Linked DNA regions of Homo sapiens: region 1 is linked to region 2. Evidence: fine-mapped expression QTL. A gene starts in region 2. The other region holds a variant in brackets. All regions are shown on one strand. Distances are between the middles of the regions.

Region 1 (5,217 bases), 30 kb after region 2:
GAGAAGGAAGGGTTGACTGCAGTTGACACAACAAGTGTTGGCCACCACCTTCACCATCCCCTCATCTAGAGCCCCCCATACCCAGGTTCCCCACTCCAGTGTGGATTCAGCCCTCCCTCCACCATGCCCACATTCACACGGAACCTCCATCCCCTCAGCTTCTGGCACCCAAGGCAAAGGCCTGAGGAGCACAGCCATTCCACGTGACTCCAACATTTATATTATGCTGATTGTGTAGCTTCTTTTTTTCTTTTTTTCCACAGGTTCTTGGTCTGTTGCCCAGGCTAAAGTGCAGTGGTGCAATCACAGCTCACTGCAGCCTTGAACTCCTGGCTCAAACGATCCTCCCACTTCAGCCTCCTGAGTAGCTGGGACTACTTGTGAGCCACCACACTCAGCTAATTTTTGTATTTTGTTGTAGAGACTGGATTTCACCTTGTTCTCCAGGCTGGTCTTGAACTCCTGGCCTCAAACTATCCACCTGCCTTGACCTCCCAGAATGCTGGGATGAGAGGCCTGTGCCTGGCCAATTGTGTGGTTTTTGATGAGCCCGCAGAAGACTCTTCAGAGGACTTTTGGGTTTTAGACGAGATTCCTTAAATTGTTTTTTAATGTAAACCCCTCCCAGTTTAATGAACATTCAAAACTACTTCCCCAGGGAGTTTATGGCTTTCCAAGAGCTTTGGGAAAAGGAGGAAGAGTTGCCACTGTTTGACTGACCAGGAAGCCCTGTCTTCTGCAGTTGATTGTCCTGGCAGGCCATCCCCATCCTTCTGGGCTCAGGTTTATGCTCAGATGCCTGGCATCCCACCATTGGCAGCTGCCTGCCTTCAACATTGCCCTGGCTGGGTTTCCACTTTAGAAGCAAATGCAGCATCTGCAGGAATGGGAAAGAAAGTAACACAAGTGACTCTGATGTATCTCACAGTGACCTCAGGGACACTTCATTCCTGGTGGGGTCAATGGACAGAGAATCTTGGATGAAGAGGAAGCATCACTAGAGTCACAGTGGATGTTGGGCTTGGATTCTACAAACAACACAGAGGGAGAAACTGAGATGGTCAAAATAACTGAATAAAACTGAATCAACACAGCAGAGGAGTTATCCTTCTCAGGAAGATGCACAGCTGCTAATGTTGTAGGCACAGGTTTAGGGCACATGCTCTATGAAAAATACAAATCTTTAAATATTAGAATAACACAATACAGAGAGAGATGCTACCAGCAGGAGAGGCCCCAGAAACTGCAGCCAAATGTAGATGTCTCATCCCACTCCCCAGGGCAGAGGACTGAGCATTAATGAAATTAAGTATTTCTTGTTCTAAGTTCTCTCTCCAATTGAGCTGTAAATACTTAATTTATGTTTGGTTGAGTGTAACATTGCTCCATTGGATGGTGTATTAGTCTGTTCTTCCACTGCTATAAAGATACTATCCAAGATTGGGTAATTTATAAACAAAGGAGGTTTAATGGACTTACAGTTCTGCATGGCTGGGGAGGCCACAGGAAACTTACAATCATGGAAGAAGAGGAAGCAGGCACATCTTACATGGCAGCAGGAGAGAGAGAGAGAGAGAGTAAATACATGAAGGAGGAACTGTCAAACACGTATAAAACCATCAGATCTTGTGAGAACTCACTCACTATCACAAGAACACCATGGGGGAAACCGCTCCCATGATCATATCATCTCCCACCAGGTCTCTCCCACAAAACCTGGGGATTACAATTCAAGATGAGATTTGGGTGGGGACACAAAGCCTAACCACATCAGATGGACTGGGGAAGAATTTTAACTAAAACCAATAAGCAACCAAGAAACTGAGCAGGAGTTGTGAGTGGGAGGCGGAGGACCCTCACTCCAATTTACTAAAATCATAGAACAGCAGATCCAAAGAAGGCGTCAGGGTCATTTGCTCAGTGCCCCCGCCCCCACCTTGACCTGAGATTCTATCCCCAGCAGCCCTTTCCAGAGCATGAAGATTTTGCGAAGTGGAGAGAATTATACAAAATCACTTGATGATAAATACTGGAGGTGGCTGAAATAACTCGTGTTTTCTTTGTTTTTAAGGAGCTGCTTTAGGATGGAAGATGAGGCTTGCTTTTTCTTTCTCCTAGAAGTCAGCATTTTACATGATTCTGGGAGGGAAGAAAGGAGACAGGAACCAAGGAGCCTGAGTGGGGATTTGCCCACCACTGGTAAGGCCCTGCCTCCACTCTGAGCTGTTGCCAGGCCGTGAGTGAGCCTGGTGTGCTATGCAAGGTGTTTGGTTTCTCATCTGCACCCCTTCATCCCATCTCACCTGGACCCTTTTTCATCCCAGGAGCTGGCCATATGCTGTGTTATGACTCAGGGCAGGAATGTTGCACCAGAGAGAAAGGAGTTTCTTTGATTTTTAAAATTTGGGGAAGGAATAGTGAATCGTCAGAACACAAGAAAAAAATATTTATTAAGAGTCACAATTCCTGCCTCAAAAAAATGGAAAAGGATTTATTCTGTTGGAGGTGACAGTAAAATAGAATGGTGAAAAGAATTGGGAGAATATGATGAGCGGGACTGAGGGGAACTGGTTCTAAAGGACCCCAGGAAAAGGGTTCAAATGCCTTCCCTTCCCTTGTTTATTCCTAGG[G/A]CAGCCAGGCTCCCGTCAGGAAGGCTTTTCAGAGGGAGTGTTGGAAGGAGTCGTCGAGGAGTCTTCCTCACCCAGGAAGTCTTCCTCACCGGGTGAGCCCCAACCTGCTGGACCTGCTCAGAATTTGCCCAACAGGGGATCCTGGTTGACTGAGGTCTGCTAATTCCAACTGGCCTACGCTAAATTCTCCCAGAATGTCTTCATCATCAATGAATCGCTTTCCACTGACACGACGCCTGGAAGAACATAAACACTGTGAGGATAAATGCCAATGAAATAATAATAAAATAAACTTTCTTTGGTGGCCAGAGGGAAACAGAATGCCTACCCATTTCCCCACCCCCCGCCCCGCCGCTGCCCCTTGCAGGATTTCTTTTAGAAAACTAGTATTTGTAAATCATTTTCCTACCTATTGGAGATGAGTGCCAACCTTTTTAAAGGCCAAGTGAGCCTCTTTTTTTAATACTCTAGGAATGCGTCTTGGAGGGGTTGCAGTCATCTTTTTGGGATCTGAACATTCATTCACAGCTGTCAGCTTATGTCCTTGTATCTGACGGCACTGACCTAGGTGCATGGCTGCCAGAAGTAACTTCCTGCTTGTCACAAAAATGCAATCTCCTGCCTGCCCCTGATTCTCCCCAGCCCTGGCTTTGGATAAAGACAATTAATATGAACGTGATGAATTGCGTCTCTCTGGCTATGTAAAAAAGGGATATTTATTTCCACTTTTGACTCTAAAACTTTGAGTTTGTTTGTTAACATGGCAAAACAATTCTTTCTGATCAAATCATCTACACACAGGTGCACTCAGGTATCTTACAAAAATGGATTCATGAACACTTAATGCTTTTAATCAGCTTTGTTTCCCAATGAAGTATCTCCTAGACACATTTTCTATTTACTTCTTGATTCATTTACATATTTATTTATAAAATATTATTGAACAAGATTATTAAAGATGATGGTGAAATAACAGTAAATAAAGAAACCAATGACAATTCCAGTTGATCCAGGCAGTCGTTTAAAAATGTATTCACCCAGACTCTTGTCATCTTGTTTGCAGATTGTCGTTGGAAATGCATTTTGCCCAACTTTTTTATTCTTAAGGGAAAAACTATAAAAAGAAAGCTGCTCATGATTTGGATTCTTTCAGATATAAGTTTTACTTTGACATAGATTCATGTTAACTCAAGAAATAAATTCACAAATAAAATACAGGATCAGACGAGCCTTCCTTGTCATGCTTTGAAGGAAATGTTTCCCATAAAGTTATGTACCTGATCTGTGATTAGAGAAATTGGTGTTCCAATTTAGGTACCTGTTATTTTTTAAACGTAGTTGCTTTAGGGTTAATATAGAAGGTTAGGCCAGGCGTGGTGTCTCACGCCTGTAATCCCGGCACTTTGGGAGGCCGAGGAGGGTGGATCATGAGGTCAGGAGATCGAGACCATCCTGGCTAACACGGTGAAACCCCGTCTCTACTAAAAATACAAAAAACTAGCTGGGCGTGGTCGCGGGCACCTGTAGTCCCAGCTACTGGGGAGGCTGAGGCAGGAGAATGGTGTGAACCCGGGAGGCGGAGCTTGCAGTGAGCCGAGATCACGCCACTGCACTCCAGCCTGGGCAAGAGTGCAAAACTCTGTCTCAAAAAAAAAAAAAAATATATATATATATATTTATATATGTATTTATATATATTTATATATATATGTATTTATATATATTTATATATGTATTTATATATATTCATATATATATTTATATATGTATTTATATATATTCATATATATATTTATATATGTATTTATATATTCATATATATATTTATATATGTATTTATATATATTTACATATATATTTATATATGTATTTATATGTATTTATATATATATTTTTATATATTTATATATTTAAATATATTTATATATTTATATATTTATATATTTATATATATTTATATATATTTATATATTTATATATATTTATATATTTATATATTTATATATATTTATATATATTTATATATTTATATATATTTATATATATTTATATATATTTATATATTTATATATATTTATATATATTTATATATATTTATATATATTTATATATATTTATACATATTTATATATATGTATATGTTTATATATATTTATATATATTTATATATGTATATATTTATATATATTTATATATATTTATATATGTATATATTTATATATATTTATATATTTATATATTTATATATATTTATATATATTTATATATATAATTATTTATATATATTTATATAATATATAACTATATATTATATAATATATAGTATATTATATAATATATCGTTATATATTATATAAAATATTATATATATTATACTACATATAATATTATATATTATATATTATATAACAATATATATCATATATTATATATTATATAACAATATATATCATATATTATATATTATATGACAATATATATCATATATTATATATTATATGACAATATATATCATATATATTATATAACAATATATATCATATATTATATAACAATATATATTATATATTATATAACAACATATTAT
Region 2 (5,217 bases):
ATGTCTCACCCATGAATATATGTGTACACACAGATTCACACATGTACAGACACATGCACTATACATACACTCACATACACATGCATTCATCACACATGTACACATGACTCACATGACATACACACCCACATGAAGACACACACCTCTCACCCATAAACATATGTGTACACACAGATGTACATATGCACAGATATGTGCACCACACACTCACATACACATGCATTCATCACACATGTACACACGACTCACACAATGTACACACGACTCACACAATGTACACACCCACATACAGAGACACACGTCTCACCCATAAATATATGCATACACACAGATTCACACATGCACAGATACATGCACTATACATACACTCACATACATATGTATTCATCACACATGTACACACGACTCACATGACATACACACCCACATGAAGACACACACCTCTCACCCATAAATATATGTGTACACACAGATGTACATATGCACAGATATGTGCACCACACACTCACATACGCATGCATTCATCACACATGTACACACGACTCACACAATGTACACACCCACATACAGAGACACACATCTTACCCATAAATATATGCATACACACAGATTCACACATGTACAGATGCATGCACCACACATGCACAAACATACACATGCATTCATCACACATGTACACACGACTCACACAATGTACACACGACTCACACAATGTACACACACACACACACCTCTTACCCATAAAGTACGAGTAGACACAGATGCATGCATGCACATACACATGCATTCATCACACATATACACACAACTCACACAACATACACACCCACAGACAGACACACACATCACACCCATAAATGTATGCACACACACAAATGTATGCATGCACACGTGCACACACATGTATAGATACAAGCACAACACACTCATAAAGATACACACATACATTGCACCCATATTCATAACTCACATGATATACATGCCCACATACAGACACATTGCACTCACCCATAAACCCTCACATACACAGATACACACATTCTGGTACATGCAGCACACACACTCGCAAACACAGAGTCATCACACACATGCACACGACTCACACAATGTACACACCTGTGTATAGATACTACGTACCACTCACACATAAACACAAACATACTTGCAGGTACACACACGGATACACACTACAAACACATCTCCACATACACATATGCCACACAGACTCACACATACATATGCAGTACACATACATACTTCTGTTCATGCACACACACTTTTACATGCTCATGTGCTCACTCCACCACACATAAACCACACATTTACACATACTAACACATGCACACACTCACACACATAAACAGAAGCTCGCACACACAGGAATCACACGCGTACATGCACACACGGGTATTGCCAGCCTGCACGCTCCCAAGGAGGTTCATACTCCTGTCTAGATATGTGAAGAGACTGCACCCTATTTTGCACCCTTGCTCGTGGTCAGGTTTTGGGGATGGCTCCCCTATTTAGACTCTTCCTCTCACGAAGCTGAAAGGAAACGTTCACTCAGGGCTTTCTCTCATCACTGTAGGCTCTGAACTCCCTCGCCCTTCAGGTCAAATAACGTGTACCCTGCTGGTTCCGGGAAGCGCTGCTATCACAGAAAAACACACCCGCTGCTCCAGCCCTGTGGGAATACGGCACCGCATCTGCCTGTGGTCTCTGTCCAAATTTCCAAAGACAATGAAAAGTAATGGTGACGATGATGTCGATGATGACGAAAACAATAATAAGTGAGAAGAATCGCTCACTAGGTCCCAGGCACATTGCCAAGTGGCTTACATATTGTCTTCTCCTATGATAAGTATTTTTAGTCCTTCTTTCATAGATGAGTAAATTAAGGTACAGAGATGACAAATAATTGGCCCAAATCCAATAGCCAAGAAGTCACAAAATCAAGATTCACAACAGTTCCCTTTGGGTCTGATCCTAGAGTTGTACCCTTCCCCATTCCATGGCATTAGGGAGGCGGAAGGGAACTCCCTTTCTGCTTCCTGGAATCCAGGCTGGCTTGGTGACTTGCCGACCACAGAACGCTGTGGAAGGGACATTCTGGGGCTTCCCATCTCCAACATAAGAAGGTAAGAAGGCTGCAGCTTCCACCGGGCCTCTTGGGCTGTGTACTCTTGACACTCTTGCTCTGAGAACTAAGCAGGCATATTTCATATCAAAATAGTAAAGAACTTCCTTTCCAAAGGCAGGACTTGCTTCTGTGAGGTACTGAGCCACCCGTCCCTGGAGGAAAGCAAGAACAGAGCAGATCAGAGCCCAGGCAGACATCTTGGATGATGGGTGAGTGCGATCGGCTATGTGGCCCGAGTCTCATATTCGCAAGAGACTTCACATGCAACTTTTGAAGTTCAGAACCAGGACGCAGACAGTGAAATGATTGAAGGAAGACATTTATCAAAATTTCCTCCCACAGGGCTCATGGCCAGACTTCATCACGTGCAGGGGTCATGTAATCTTACCACATTAAGTTACTACACTCACGTCACTGTGCACTCTGTGGGAGTGTGTCCCCATGTCAACTTGTAAATATATAAGTGTATTCTACATTACTTCAAAGCCCGTTTTGTAATTCCTTCATTAAAAAAAAGAAGTTTTCGGCCGGGCGCAGTGGCTCACGCCTGTAATCCCAGCACTTTGGGAGGCCGAGGTGGGCGGATCACGAGGTCAGGGGATCGAGACCATCGTGGCTAATGTGGTGAAACCCCGTCTCTATTAAAAATACAAAAAAAAGTAGCCAGGCATGGTGGCGGGCTCCTGTAGTCCCAGTTACTCGAGAAGCTGAGGCAGGAGAATGGCGTGAACCCGGGAGGCAGAGCTTGCAGTGAGCCGAGTTCTCACTACTGCACTCCAGCCTGGGTGACAGAGCAAGACTCCATCTCAAAAATAAATAAATAAATTAATTAATTAATTTTAAAAAAGACATTTTCTTAGAGCCTTAAAAAGTTATTGGGGGCTGAGTGCAGTGCCTCACGCCTGCAATCCCAGCACTTTGGGAGGCTGAGGCAGGTGGATCATCTGAGGTCAGGAGTTTGAGACCAGACTGGCCAACATGGTAAAACCCTGTCTCTACTAAAAAAAAATACAAAACATTAGCCAGGTGTGGTGGTGGGCACCTGTAATCCCAGCTACTCGGGAGGCTGAGGCAGGAGATAATTTGAAGCCAGGATGCGAAGTTTGCAGAGCTGAAATCATGTCATTGCACTCCAGCCTGGGCAACAAGAATAAAACTCTGTCTCAAATAATAATAATAATAAATAAAAATAAGTAAATAAAAGTTATTGGGCCCTCCCTTTGTGCATCCTCTGAGAGGTCATGGGCTGGATGACCAGGCGGTGTGGTTGTGCTGGAGGGGACTTCAGCGTGGAATGAGGGGTGACCTGCTGGTGATCTTTCTGCTCTCAGCCGCTGTGGTCTTCGGAGATGAGACGAGGCAGATGCAGTGAGATTGTGCAGATAATGTCTCCATCAGGGGATGAGTTGCTATAGCACCCAGAGTGATTTCAGGAACAAAAAGGGTCATGCCCTAGCCTGTCTTCAATGGCTCATAGCAACCCCTATTGCCTCATCACCCTATTCTCCAATATTCCTCTAATATCTTCCATTGTGGAGACATCCAACATAAAGTAGAGTAGAATTGATTCAAAAACACTGCTTGAACTGCCTAAATTAGAATCATTCTTAGCTTCTCAACATACAAATATAAGATAAAGGAAAAGAATGTTGTTCCCCTCCCTGTGTCCATGTGTTCTCATTGTTCAACTCCCACTTCTGAGTGAGAACATGTGGTGTTTGGTTTTCTGCTCCCGCGGTAGTTTGCTGAGAATGATGGCTTCCAGCTTCTTCCATGTCCCTGCAAAGGACATGAACTCATTCTTTTTTACGGGTGCATAGTATTCCGTGGTGTATATATGTCACATTTTCTTTATTCAGTCTACCATTGATGGGCATTTGGGTTGGTTCACACCAGGCCTTGTCAGGAGGGAGGGGTGGGGAGGAAGGGGCGAGAGAGCATTAGGACAAATACCTAACGTACGCGGGGCTTAAAACTTAGATGACGGGTTGCTAGGTGCAGCAAACCACCATGACACATGTATACCTATGTAACAAACCTGCACGTTCTGCACATGTATCCCAGAAATTAAAGTTTTTGAAAAAGAAAAAGAAACTGCATTAAAAAATTAAATGAAGTTATGAATATATGTTTTTTGTTTAATCAGCAACCCCTCTACTATTCTGGTAGAAGCTGCTCAATTTGCTTCGAGGATCCAGACTCCCTCCCTCCCAGTCTGTGTGTTGGGGCCTAAAGGATGTTCACTCACCCACCTTTCCTGGCTCCAGAGCTGTTTACACTTCCCAGGATGGTTTTTTTTTTTCCTGTTTGTTTTGTCTTCTGCTTATAGGTGAGATCTTCCTGGGGTTCTTGCTGTACCTGCTGACAAGGGGCAGCTCTCTCTAAATGCCACGGAGCTGGAAGGCTGCAGCCTGGAACTTGCTGCAGCCCACCCAGGCAAGCAAGAGATGACATAGTTTCAGCACCTGGATCTATGGCACCCAGAAGCCAGATCCAACCCCCCAGCCCTTATCTTTGACCTTGAGCCAGTCTGAACTGGTAACTGGAAGTCACTTATCTACCAGATTCAACTATCAGGATGTTACTAATAAAAAATGACTCCAAAAATGAAAATGTGTTTCACAATATTTTCATGCAAAGACTTCGGGATCTATTTATACTCGACACCAACCATCTTGGTTATCTGATTTTTTAGTTCTCAGCAGCTGCTAAGCTGTAAATTAGGAGAGGATGCTAATGGTAGCCACACGGAGAGTAAGGAGAGTGATGGTCTAAGGGAGGAAAAATATCTGAATAGACATTTTTCAAAAAAGACTCAAATGGCCAAAAGTTGGAACTTGGATAAGTCAGTAAGGTTTCCAAGCATGGAGCTTGCATGAGTCAGCAAGGTTTCCGAAGCATGGAGCTTGACTTGGGAATGGGTTGGGAGCATTTGTAGGAAGATAATTTCTTTTCCTTTTTTTAAATATGAAGAAATGGGCTGGGTGTGGTGGCTCACGCCTGTAATCCCAGCACTTTGGGAGGCCGAGGCAGGTGGATCACTTGAGCTTAGGAGTTTGAGACCAACCTGGGCGACA

Evidence for each region. PIP is the estimated chance that this variant, and not a neighbour inherited with it, causes the effect. A credible set is the group of variants that fine-mapping cannot tell apart.
Region 1: its variant is the best candidate, but not a certain one, in a credible set for the expression of LINC02369 in testis (GTEx, PIP 0.75).

Annotation. Positions count from the first base shown.
Region 1 is chr12:128,084,711-128,089,927 of GRCh38, reverse strand. LINC02369 (long intergenic non-protein coding RNA 2369) reads left to right here. Exons shown (of 5, transcript NR_104647.1): 4 at 2,072-2,199; 5 at 2,630-2,946. Among named protein-coding and RNA genes, the nearest start is that of LINC02369, 31 kb to the left of the region's middle. The variant G/A (reference allele first, on the strand shown) is at 2,631.
Region 2 is chr12:128,115,046-128,120,262 of GRCh38, reverse strand. It overlaps LINC02369 (long intergenic non-protein coding RNA 2369), which reads left to right and starts at 2,122. Exons shown (of 5, transcript NR_104647.1): 1 at 2,122-2,138; 2 at 2,255-2,349. LINC02368 (long intergenic non-protein coding RNA 2368) reads right to left here and starts at 2,046. Exons shown (of 3, transcript NR_104648.1): 1 at 1,486-2,046.